Linked DNA regions of Homo sapiens. The protein of the gene in region 1 purifies or fractionates together with the protein of each later gene. This does not show direct contact. Each region holds a gene or a part of one and is shown on either strand. Other genes may lie near its edges. The genes, in order: ZNF695, PIGR and RTCA.

Region 1 (3,274 bases):
ATAAGTTTCATAAAATCATTATTATAATCCCTGAGAAGATCACATAAGAAATTCTTCATGAATTTTGGAACAAGAAAATTATACGTTAGCTCTAGCATGAGCAACATAAAAGTAAAAACAGGAATTTCATGTGGAAATTCTGCAAAATAAGATTTTAGAGAAATGCCTTCAATACAAAGCAGAGAAAACAGATTTGCCTTCGACATTTTTGAGGTTTCTAGTTTGCTAATAAATTATCCATACTTTTGAAATTATGTTTGGTTCCAACATTTTTCTCTTATTCTGAAAACAGGTATGCACTTACTTCAAACACATTACTTGCTTCATAACTGTCTTACACCTAACATTTATCCTTAGAGTAGTATATTTATGTATTTATCTCCATGTAAACCAAAACTAAAAGCATGTATATGTTTTGCAGGCCAGAAAAGCCACATGTTAAAAGGAAAATGTAAATAAAATTTTGTGAATAGTCCTTCAAGATTCAGAAATACACGGTCTTTGATTATAATCCTATATAGGCTTTATTATAGCCTTAATAATGACACTGTCATTACAAAAAGAGCAAACAGAATGAAGGTGTAACGTGTGGGAACAATATTTTTCAAATTATTTGAAGTTTAATGCCACTGGGAGAAGGGATCATTAGAGATACTATTCCACCATGTTACCCACTATTGTATTGTTACCATTTGTTACCTACAACCGTAACTAAGGTGAGATAGGTTAACGTTGGTGGTAGGATACGCATCACTTAATGTACAACGGTCCAAAGACATTAAAACAATGTCTTATTAAAACAAATTAAGTTCAAACAGTCTAAAAAGAGCATTTCAAAATCCACTGAATTTTATTACCTTAATGTGCAATAGGAAAAACAACTGACTTGTAAAACTCAAATGTTTCTTTCTTAAATATAATGCAGAATAGTACTCTGAAGACCTATCTCATGAATCACTTACAACCCTATTATAAGACAAGTACAAAGAGCCTCTCCAGTTAAATTTCTTCAGGAAGCTTACAATGCAATGTCCATAATCTTCCAAAGAAAAGGATATGAACAACACCCACCCGAATATAGAAGAAACTCTCACAGCTTTCATGTAGCAACAGTAGGCCTCATGCCTTCACATAAACACTAGAAATGAAGGCATGGTATCAAGTGATTTAAGACTTGAATTACATAAATATGTGATTTTCAAAAAAGCTAAAACTCTTTCAGTGCACCGAGTATACTTTATTATTATGTTGTTATTATTATTATTGAGAAAGGGTCTTGCTCTGTTGCCCAGGCAGGAGTGAAGTTGCCAGATAGCAGCTCACTGCATCCTCAACCTCCAGGCTCAAGCAATCCTCCCACCTGAGCCTTCCAAGTAGCTGGGACAACAGGCATGTGCCACCAAGCCTGGCTTTTATTTTACTTTTTGTAGAGATGAGGTTTTGCCATGTTGCCCAGCCTGGTCCCAAACTCCTGGGCTCAAGCAATCCCCCGACCTCGGCATCCAAAAGTGCAGCAACTATAGGAAAGAGCCACCGTGCCTGGCACCAAAAGGTATACTTGAAATGTAATTATAACTTCCCCAAAAGGTGAATCTCCTACTTACTTTAACTTAACTTTGAATTATTCTCTATAACCAACACTCAGATTTACAGTAATGTCTGAAAGTGTCAGTGACTTAGTGCTTTTTACTATGAATTCTTGGATGTGTTTTGATGTAATTTTTGATTAGACATTTTTTCACATTTACTGCATCTGTAAAACAGTTTTTAGTGTGAACACTCTGGTGTTTTCTGAGGTATATTTTTTGAACAAATGTTGTTTCTGCATTTATTACATTTGTAGGGTTTCTCTCCAATACAAAGTCTTTGAAATTGAATACAGTTTGAGCAACTGGAGGGTTTCCCTCCAGTATAAATTCTTCTGTGTACAGTAAGAGCTGTGATATAAGTGGAGGTGTTGAACCGGTCTATTTGTATTGTTCGTAGCCTAAACATTTTAGTGCACTCAAAGGCTCATAGACTGTAAATGGCCTTTTGACAGTCATTACATTTGTAACACTCTTATTCAGTAAAAATATTCTGCTGTGAAGTTGTGAATAGGTATTAAAGACTATGCCATATTGTTTAGAATTGTAGGGTTTTTCTCAGGTATGAGTTTTCTCATGTACAGCAAGTTGTGCAGAGTGGTTAAAGGCTTTGCCACATTCCTCACACTTGTATGGTTTCTCTCTGGTATGAATTGTCTTATGTTTAGAAAGGTGTGAGCTCTGGCCAAAGGCTTTGCCACATTCTTCACATTTGTAGGGTTTCTCTCCAGTATGAATTCTCTTATGATTAGTAAGATATGAAAACCAGTTAAAAGCTTTGCCACATTCATCACATTTGTAGGGTTTCTCTCCAGTATGAATTCTCTTATGTTGAGTAAGGTATGAAAACCAGGTAAAAGCTTTGCCACATTCCTCACATTTGTAGGGTTTCTGCCCAGTATGAATTCTCTTATGCTGAATAAGGTATGAGAACCAGGTAAAAGCTTTGCCACATTCCTCACATTTGTATGGTTTCTCACCAGTATGAATTCTCCTATGTTCAGTCAGATGTGAGCTCTGGTTAAAGGCTTTTCCACATTCTTCACATCGGAAGGTTTTCTCTCCAGTATGAATTCTTCTATGTTGAGTAAGGTATGACAACAATTTAAAGACTTTGCCACATTCTTCACACTTGTAGGGTTTCTCTCTACTATGAATTCTCTTGTGTTGAGTAAGGTATGGGAACAACTTAAAGGATTTGCCACATTCTTCACATTTGTATGGTTTCTCTCCAGTATGAATTTTCTTATGTTTAGTAAGAACTGAGCACAGGTTAAAAGCTTTGCCACATTCTTCACATCTGTAGGTTTTCTTTTCAGTATGATTTTTCTCAACAACAGCAAGACTTGAGCAAGACTTAAAAATGTTATTACATTCTTCACATTTGCAATGTTTCTCTCCAACATGAATTCTCTTACAGTCAGTAAAGCATGAGCACTCATTAAAGGCTTTGCCACATTTTTTACATTGGTACGGGTTCTCTCCAATATGGATTCTCTGCTGTTGAGTCATTATTAAAGACATGCAAGAGACATTGCCACATTCTTTGCATTTGAATGGTTTTTCTCCAGTATGGCTTATCTTACATTTATTTAGATTTGCAAATTTACTAAAACCTTTCACACATTTATTGCATTGAAAGTTTTTGCTATGAGTAGTTGCTGAGCATAGGTCAAGTCCATTATAAC
Region 2 (3,656 bases), about 40 Mb from region 1:
ACTTGGAACTGCAAGTACTGGTTTGCTGCTTCTCACGAGGGCAACTCTATGCAGGGTGCTCTGGGATGAGAAGGAGCTGGGATTTAATTCTTTCACCATGCTGATGGCTCACTGGAGTAGGGCTGAGTGGGCCAGATGGTGCTGAAATTCACAAATAACCCTACGAAATGTGACAGTGAAACATTTAGAGGCTGGGGCACTCCTGGGAACGCATTGAGACCAAGATAAGCCAATCCTTTTTCCATCTGAATGTGAGGGATGAGGCACCCATCTTGTTCAGGGGCCAGGGGAGGGGACAGAGGACCCCTGCAGAGCCTGCCACAGCCCTGAAACACAGTCTATAAGTCCTGCCTCAATCAAGAGCTTTACTCACCTCTTGCTTGTTAAGCAGGGACAGCCATCAAAATGACTTTGATAACAGAAGAGTAATTAGGAGCTGCCATCAGGCAGAGGTTGCTTTTTCTTGCTGTCCTGTGCAGCAGCCCACGCAGCCTCCAGTTCGGGGCTGGTCATTGAGTGGATGCTGTTGGCTGATTGATGACTATTGATGAATACACTCAGAGGGAGCTGAGCTTGGCTCTCACCTGCGAGACTGCCCCACCTACTCCCCCTCCCTCTCTAGGGTCTTACCCTCATTGACGAAGAGTTGCCAGGCCTGGATAGGCGAGCCTTCCTGCAGCTGACCATCCGAATGGGCTCCACACAGGTAGCGCCCTGCATCCTCCTTCCTCAGGCCTGTGATCACCACACTGAATGAGCCATCCTTGTCCTGGGGGTTGAGCAGGATCCTGCCCTCAAAGGCTGGGGCCCTCTTCCCCAGGGTGTTGACGACCACGTCACAGTTTTCCCCACTGCTCTGTCGGCACAGAAATTTGGCCACGTTTGCCACCTCAGGGCCCAGGGCACAGTGGAAGGTCACTGAGCCCCTCAGGTCTTCATAAACCAGCTCGGGCTCGGGCTTTAGCACTTGGAGGTCAGCATTCTTCTTATTACTATTGGAATCATCCCCAGCCTGGCAGAGATACTGCCCAGCATCGCTGAGCCTGAGTTGGTTGATGACAACGCTGAACAGTAACTGGCCAGTACCCTGAATATCAAGGCGTATTCTTCCTGTATAGTTGGGATTTACATAACCACTGGAGTCGATGACCAGCACAGGGTACAGGCCTATCTGCTTGTACAAGGACTTCCTCTTTTGAGCATTCTCAGTCTTGAAAGGGCAGTTGATGGTCACCGTTCTGCCCAGGTCCACTGTGTAGACTTTAGTGTCATTTAGGAGCCCAGGACCTGCAGGATGAGGGGTGCAAGGTAGGGGGCAGGCAAGTTACGATTCTACTTTCTTGCAACATAGGACTATTTGCTATTCCTAGTTAGGGTGTGGGTGGACTTATAACCTGGAATGCCCTCCTTCCCAGAGGAATGCTGTCGGAAGGCCCAGCTTGACAGCGGTCTTCTCCATGAAACCTTTCCCAAGCTAACACTAATCTCTCCCTGCCCTGTGCTTTCTTGATACATCTGCATCACTTATTACATCCAATCTGGTGTATGGGTAATTATGTTCTCCATGGACTGGAAGTTCCTTGAAGGCTGGAACATGTTTTTCTCATGTTTGACCCCTCTGCTGTGACAAGCACAATGCCTCTGGGTAGTAGGTGGCCAAATTAATGTGTGCTGAAATGAACAGAATGAATGTAAATGCAGGGTGATGGATTTCAACGCATACAATAGAAGTTTCTAAAAATTACAAGAGTCTAAATGTGAAATGGGCTGTCTCAGGGAGCAGTGAGTTTCTGCTAAAGTGCTTAATCAGAGGCTGCATACCCGTCATCAGCATGTTCTTCTAAGTGTCCGGTTAGGGTGAACTCTAAGCCCTCTTCACCTCTAAAGATTCTGTGGTTTTGAATCTTGATCCCCACCTAAATGACCTCCTCATTTAGTCCACAGACAATAGTATGCATATTCCAAAGGAGCAAGACATGTCTTTGGGAGTCCCCCTGAATTTCTTTTCTCCGTAGACCTCTCTTTTGAGTTGCCCTTGACTATCTAAAACAGCCTCATTGTTAAACCCTTGTCAGAAAGAGCTTTTCTTTTTTTCTCTTTCTCCAACTAGAATAGGCTTGTTAGCAACCCATCCTTTCAGGATCTTGGTCTTTGGTCAAGATCTAATAATCTAATTTACCCTGATAATACCAAAAGACTAAGGGTTCCCAGGTTAAAAAAAAAATATGCATTTTACAAGAAGCCTTTTGGCGGCCCAAACCTTGATGGAAAGGTGCATTAATGATAGGAATTTAAGGATCCCTGTAAATCTCTCCCTACCTTTTCTATCTCCTTAGCCTGATGTCAGATTTCCCTTTCTACCTGTAGCAAACACCAGAAAACTTGTCCTTCTGATACCCTTCTAAGCTGGGGTCTCCAGAAAGCCTAAAATGTTATAGGCCACCAAGTCCTAGAAGGGTTCACTCATCACCCCCAAGTAGGCCCTATCTGTCTCCTTCTCCTGTTAAAGAAGTCTTTGCCTGGGGAAAGGGGTGCCTTCTGACCCCCAACCCGGCTACACATCCTTGTCAGGAAGTTCCTCCTCAAGCCCTCCATGCACCTTAGAGAATTCCCTCTAACTTTCCCCCAGAAGCCCAAGGAGCTTGGATCCTTACCCTGGCTGACCTCCAGGCTGACATCAAAGGACAGGCCTCGGCTATTGATGCCCAGGCCACACTTGTAGCGCCCGGAGTCATCCTGGCTCAGCTGGGCAATGTTCACCACAAATGTGCCGTTCTCCGGGAAGTTGGTGAGGTTAGCCCTGCCTGCATATTTGCTGGAGACGTAGCCCTCCGAGGAGATGAGGGTTATGCAGCCACCTCTAGCTCCCTGCCGGCACCAGTACTTCCGGGTGTGCCGGTTGACAGAGGTGGGTGGGTAGTAGCACGTGATGGACACTGAGTTACCTTCCACACTATTCACCTCCTCGGGACCAAATATGGGACTCTTCGTGGAGATGGCTGTGGGAACAGAAGAGAGAGGCTTTCTGAGGCCCTTGGGAGGTAAAGCCTGTTCCAGATAACCCACTATGAGTAGATGTGGTTTTCTACCTGACACGTAGGCCCTGTGTTGATAATTTATCATATATCACAGCTGGAAAATTGCTGAGATTAAATAAAGTGACTGTTTTAATCATGATTAAATTGGAATTGTTATTCATTAATGATAACCATTTCAAGGACAAGGGAATGACAAATTTATGATAACCCTTGTTTTTTATTTTATATATTTTTATTGTTTTGAGACAAAGTCTCTCTCTGTCGCCCAGGCTGGTGTGCAGTGGCACGATCTCGGCTCACTGCAACCTCCGCTTCCCAGGTTCAAGCGATTCTCATGCCTCAGCCTCCCAAGTAGTTGGGACTACAGGTGCATGCTAGCTAATTTTGGTTTCTATTTAGTAGAGACAAGGTTTCTCCATGTTGGCCAGGCTGGTCTTGAGCTACTGACCTCAAGCAATCCACCCTCCTTGGCCTCCCAAAGTGCTGGCATTACAGCTGTGAGCCAGCATCCAGCCATCCATTGTTTTTTCAAACAATAACACCACTTTCGTAAGGTGTTACATGTTTGCACTTGCCATGTGTTATTTCCTTATATTTCTAAAAGCACTTTGTAGATGA
Region 3 (3,756 bases), about 150 Mb from region 1:
GGCAAGAGGGATACCTTGTCTCAAAAAAAAAAAACATAAAAGTAGGGAAACAAGCTCATAGACATTAAGCAACTTGCCCAGAAAGTGGCAAAACCTGGACTTAAACCCAGGTTACTTAAATGGAATGTTAAGTGATACATACCCTGCTGTCTTGGTATCTGCTGTGTGGATTCCACCTTTGATCTTCTCTGGTGTAAAGGTTATTTCTGTTGAGCCAATTTCTGCCCCCTCCAGTTGCCCATCACACAAATCTCGAATCATTTCCAGTCCAGATAAATGTTGAGGCCTTCAGGTCATAATACTGCATCAAAACGTGTGCATTCAGACTGCCTACATCCCCACATTTTATGACAAATTTATAAAACTGCAATGGCAAGAAAACAGCAAGGTCTAACCACAGTAAGTGCCACATCTTCAGTGTCAGCTTCCTTTTGGGTTTTTATGCACCTAGACTACCTGCTAGTATGTATCATTTTAACACTTCCTTGCAGACCAGTTATTTCTGACTATAAATACATACCCTGATATATTGCTGCAAATTAGAAGTGTGCTAAAGAAGAAAACTAATAGTTATTTCAGTGCCACCAGTCTCGCTTGCACTTGACTGAACAATCTATGGTGCCTGTATGGGCTGAACTATGTTCCCCCTAAATTAATATGCTGAGACTGTAACCCTCCGTATCTCAGAATGTGACTATATTTGGAGATAGAGCCTTTAAAGAGATAATTAAGTTAAAATAAGGCCACCATACAATCTTACTGGTGTCCTTATAAAAAAAAAAAAAACTAGAACATACAGAGACGCTAGGGGCAAGGTACACAGAGGAACCACCATGTGAAGAGGCAAAAAGACAGGCCTGGAGCAGATCCTTTTCTCATGGCTCTCAGAGGAAACCAACCTTGTCAGGACCTTGATCTTGGACTTCCAGCCTCCAGAACTGTGAGGAAATAAATTTCTGTTGTTTAAGCTCCACTCTGTGTGTGGCATTTTGTTATGGCAGCCCTAGCAAACTAATACAACACCTACAGCCTAATGAATTGGATTCCCCTGTTGGTGAACTGGAGGGCTGCAAACTATGACAAAGGCAATTAACATTAACATATCAGTAATTGCCTTTTGGTAATTTCAAAACTGTAGACAAAAGACTGAGACCGCTGATTTATTAAAATGTAATAAATACAGAATACATACAAAGCAATCAGTGTGGCTTCAAACCTGGGTCCTCTTCTAGCAGGTGCATGTACCTGAAGCTCAACTAGTGGCATGCCCAGCTACCCAGACAGAAGAAATAAGGTCAAATGTCAAGGTGTTTCCCTCTCCACAACAGATAATTCTGGTCATAACAGCTCTCTGGAGGTATGAATGAAGGCTGGGATAACACATCTCAGGATTCTTTCCTGTTTTATGATTCTAAAACTGACAGCAGAACCAGAATGCACTGGTTATAAAACAGGGTTTCCTCTGGCGTCACAAGCATTTCTGCCCTATCTATCTTGCCAGCTCATACGTGCTGTTCGGATATTTGGAATGCCCGGTGAGGTGAGAAAACATTTTAAAAGCTAGCTCTTCAGCAAATGACACTATTTAGTCAAACAGAGAAAACTCGAGACCATTTCTAAACTCACCCCTCCAGGCTTTCAAGACTTTACAACCCAGGCCACCGCCCAGGCAGAGTGCCCCGCCCTGGATCGCCCATACCTGCGTCTGGGACCTTCTGGGTTCCACCACTCGGACTCCCGATGCCCCAGCCCGGCAGCCCGACCCCCCGATCCCCCAGCTTCACGGCCCAACTCCCCCTCCAGCCAGATTTACCTCAGGCCTGGCGTGCTCCGGCCGGCTCGGATCTTCTGCACCCGCAAGGGGAGGCCTAGGAGACAGCTCAAGGCCGTAGAGACTCTCAGGATCTGGCCGCCCTGCAAAGGTTGGGGTACAGGGAGAAGAGAAGTAAGCACACCGGTGGTGAGAGCTCCCCTCCTTAGTTAGGCTGCAGCCCCGGCCGCTTCGCTCTGTACTCACCCCTTCCATGATGCTGCCATCGACCTCCACCCGCGGCCCCGCCATGGGGGACACCCTGGGGCCCAGCCCGCAGCGACAAAGCCTCCGCCAGAGCGGGAGAAAGAAGAGACGTTGGCTCCCGCCCAGTAGTTCAGAAACCTTGGTTCATGCCTGGGGCGCAGGAGCCTGACGAGAAAGCGGAAGAAGCGGCGCCTCTCGGGACACTGGAGTCAGCAGAAACGAACCCCCGGGTTCGCCCAGTTCCGCAGTCAGTGCGCATGCGCGTAGCTCGGCTTAAAGGAGCCGCGCTGGGAACACTGCGGTCGGGGCGAGGAAGCTGCCGGGGAAGTGAGATGACGGTCGCGGGGGTGCCCAGGAGCCCTGAAAAACTTGTGCCCTGGGCACGGCAAAATCTGCAGGTTGCAGAAAGTCTCAACTGTAAGATAACTCCTCCAGTTATCCCGCAGGCTTGTGCTTTATCTCTGTTTTGTGGGTAAATATGTGTTTATATCTGTTTTCTCGAGGATCCTGGCATACCCCGAGGTGCCGACTTTTAGAGCTGAAGATGCAAGAAAGATTGGGATCCTGCGATGCACCGAACCTGTCTCTCGAAGTGTGTGCGCCCTGGTACATTGATACTCTTGGCCTTTGGTTCCTTGCGGTGTGCGTGTTTGTGTATGCGGAGTGTGTTATCTTTCTTTCTAGGGTGACACACCATTTATTTGAGAGGCGGGAAAGGCAGAATCACTAGTTTAATATTCTGAAAAGCCAAAGTTATGCCATTTTGCTTGAGAGTGAGTGCAAGCTCTTGACTCCCAGGAACAGTGCAGCTAACAATTCACCTCAGGCGAGGGCAGAAGCAATAGCCAGCTTCTTGGTTCTGCCTGTGGCTCAGTTCCTACATAATTGAGTACCAAATAATATGTAAACCTCTAGGGAAGCAAAAAAGAGTAATTCAGCTTCTACCCCCGAAGTTATTGGAGGTATAATGGAGAGACTGAGACGTAATCAATTACAATGTCATCCTCAATAATAATTAACATGTACTGTATTTAGAGTTTATTATGGGGACAATTACAATATATTAATAATATACTGTAACAATAACAGGCAACACTTATTGAGCACTTAGGTGTTGTGCACTGCATGCATTCATAACATGATAAAGTACTTACTGTTTTTACTGTTTTACAGCTTCCTGTGTTAAACAATTTGCTACAAGGTCACACAATTTTAACTAGAAGACTGAGATGTGAACCTGGGTGGTCTGATGTGAACACCACTGTCTGGTAATCCCAACGCTCTGCTGCTTTGCGACAGAGAATGTTTTAGGGAACACACAGACTATGTACTTAACCAAATCTGGAATTTGCCGTAAGATATTAATCAGAGAAGTAATGATACTTGCATTTTAAAATGAAGGCTTTGGCAGTAGGAGAAGGGTGAATAAGAGGCTTAAGAGCCTGAAGGGAGAAATGCCAATGATACAATTATCCAGCAAGAAATAATCAGAAGTTGAAGTAAGGCAATGATGGTAGGGATGGAATATAAAAAAGCTGTACCCCTATCTGACATCTTTATTGGGGGAACCCGCCCCCAATATTTCAACGTAGGTTCTTTCTATTTTCCATAAGTGTTGGCCAGCTGAGAAATAAAGAGAGACAGTATAAAGAGAGGAATTTTACAGCTGAGCCACCGGGGGTGACATCACATATCGGTAGGACCATGATGCCCGCCTGAGTCTCAGACCAGCAAGTTTT

What was found.
Region 2: the proteins of ZNF695 (region 1) and PIGR purify together in Homo sapiens (affinity purification with mass spectrometry; one large-scale study listed by BioGRID and IntAct). This does not show direct contact.
Region 3: the proteins of ZNF695 (region 1) and RTCA purify together in Homo sapiens (affinity purification with mass spectrometry; one large-scale study listed by BioGRID and IntAct). This does not show direct contact.

What each region holds. Positions count from the first base shown.
Region 1 is NC_000001.11:246,984,823-246,988,096, forward strand, and holds the end of ZNF695 (zinc finger protein 695), read right to left. Parts: coding exon 2,145-3,274; 3' UTR 501-2,144; downstream 1-500. UniProt on the Homo sapiens protein: May be involved in transcriptional regulation.
Region 2 is NC_000001.11:206,936,465-206,940,120, forward strand, and holds part of PIGR (polymeric immunoglobulin receptor precursor), read right to left. Parts: intron 3,000-3,656; coding exon 2,655-2,999; intron 1,288-2,654; coding exon 631-1,287; intron 1-630.
Region 3 is NC_000001.11:100,264,682-100,268,437, reverse strand, and holds the start of RTCA (RNA 3'-terminal phosphate cyclase), read right to left. Parts: upstream 2,223-3,756; 5' UTR 2,063-2,222; coding exon 2,018-2,062; intron 1,915-2,017; coding exon 1,814-1,914; intron 939-1,813; coding exon of another isoform or gene 900-938; intron 287-899; coding exon 143-286; intron 1-142.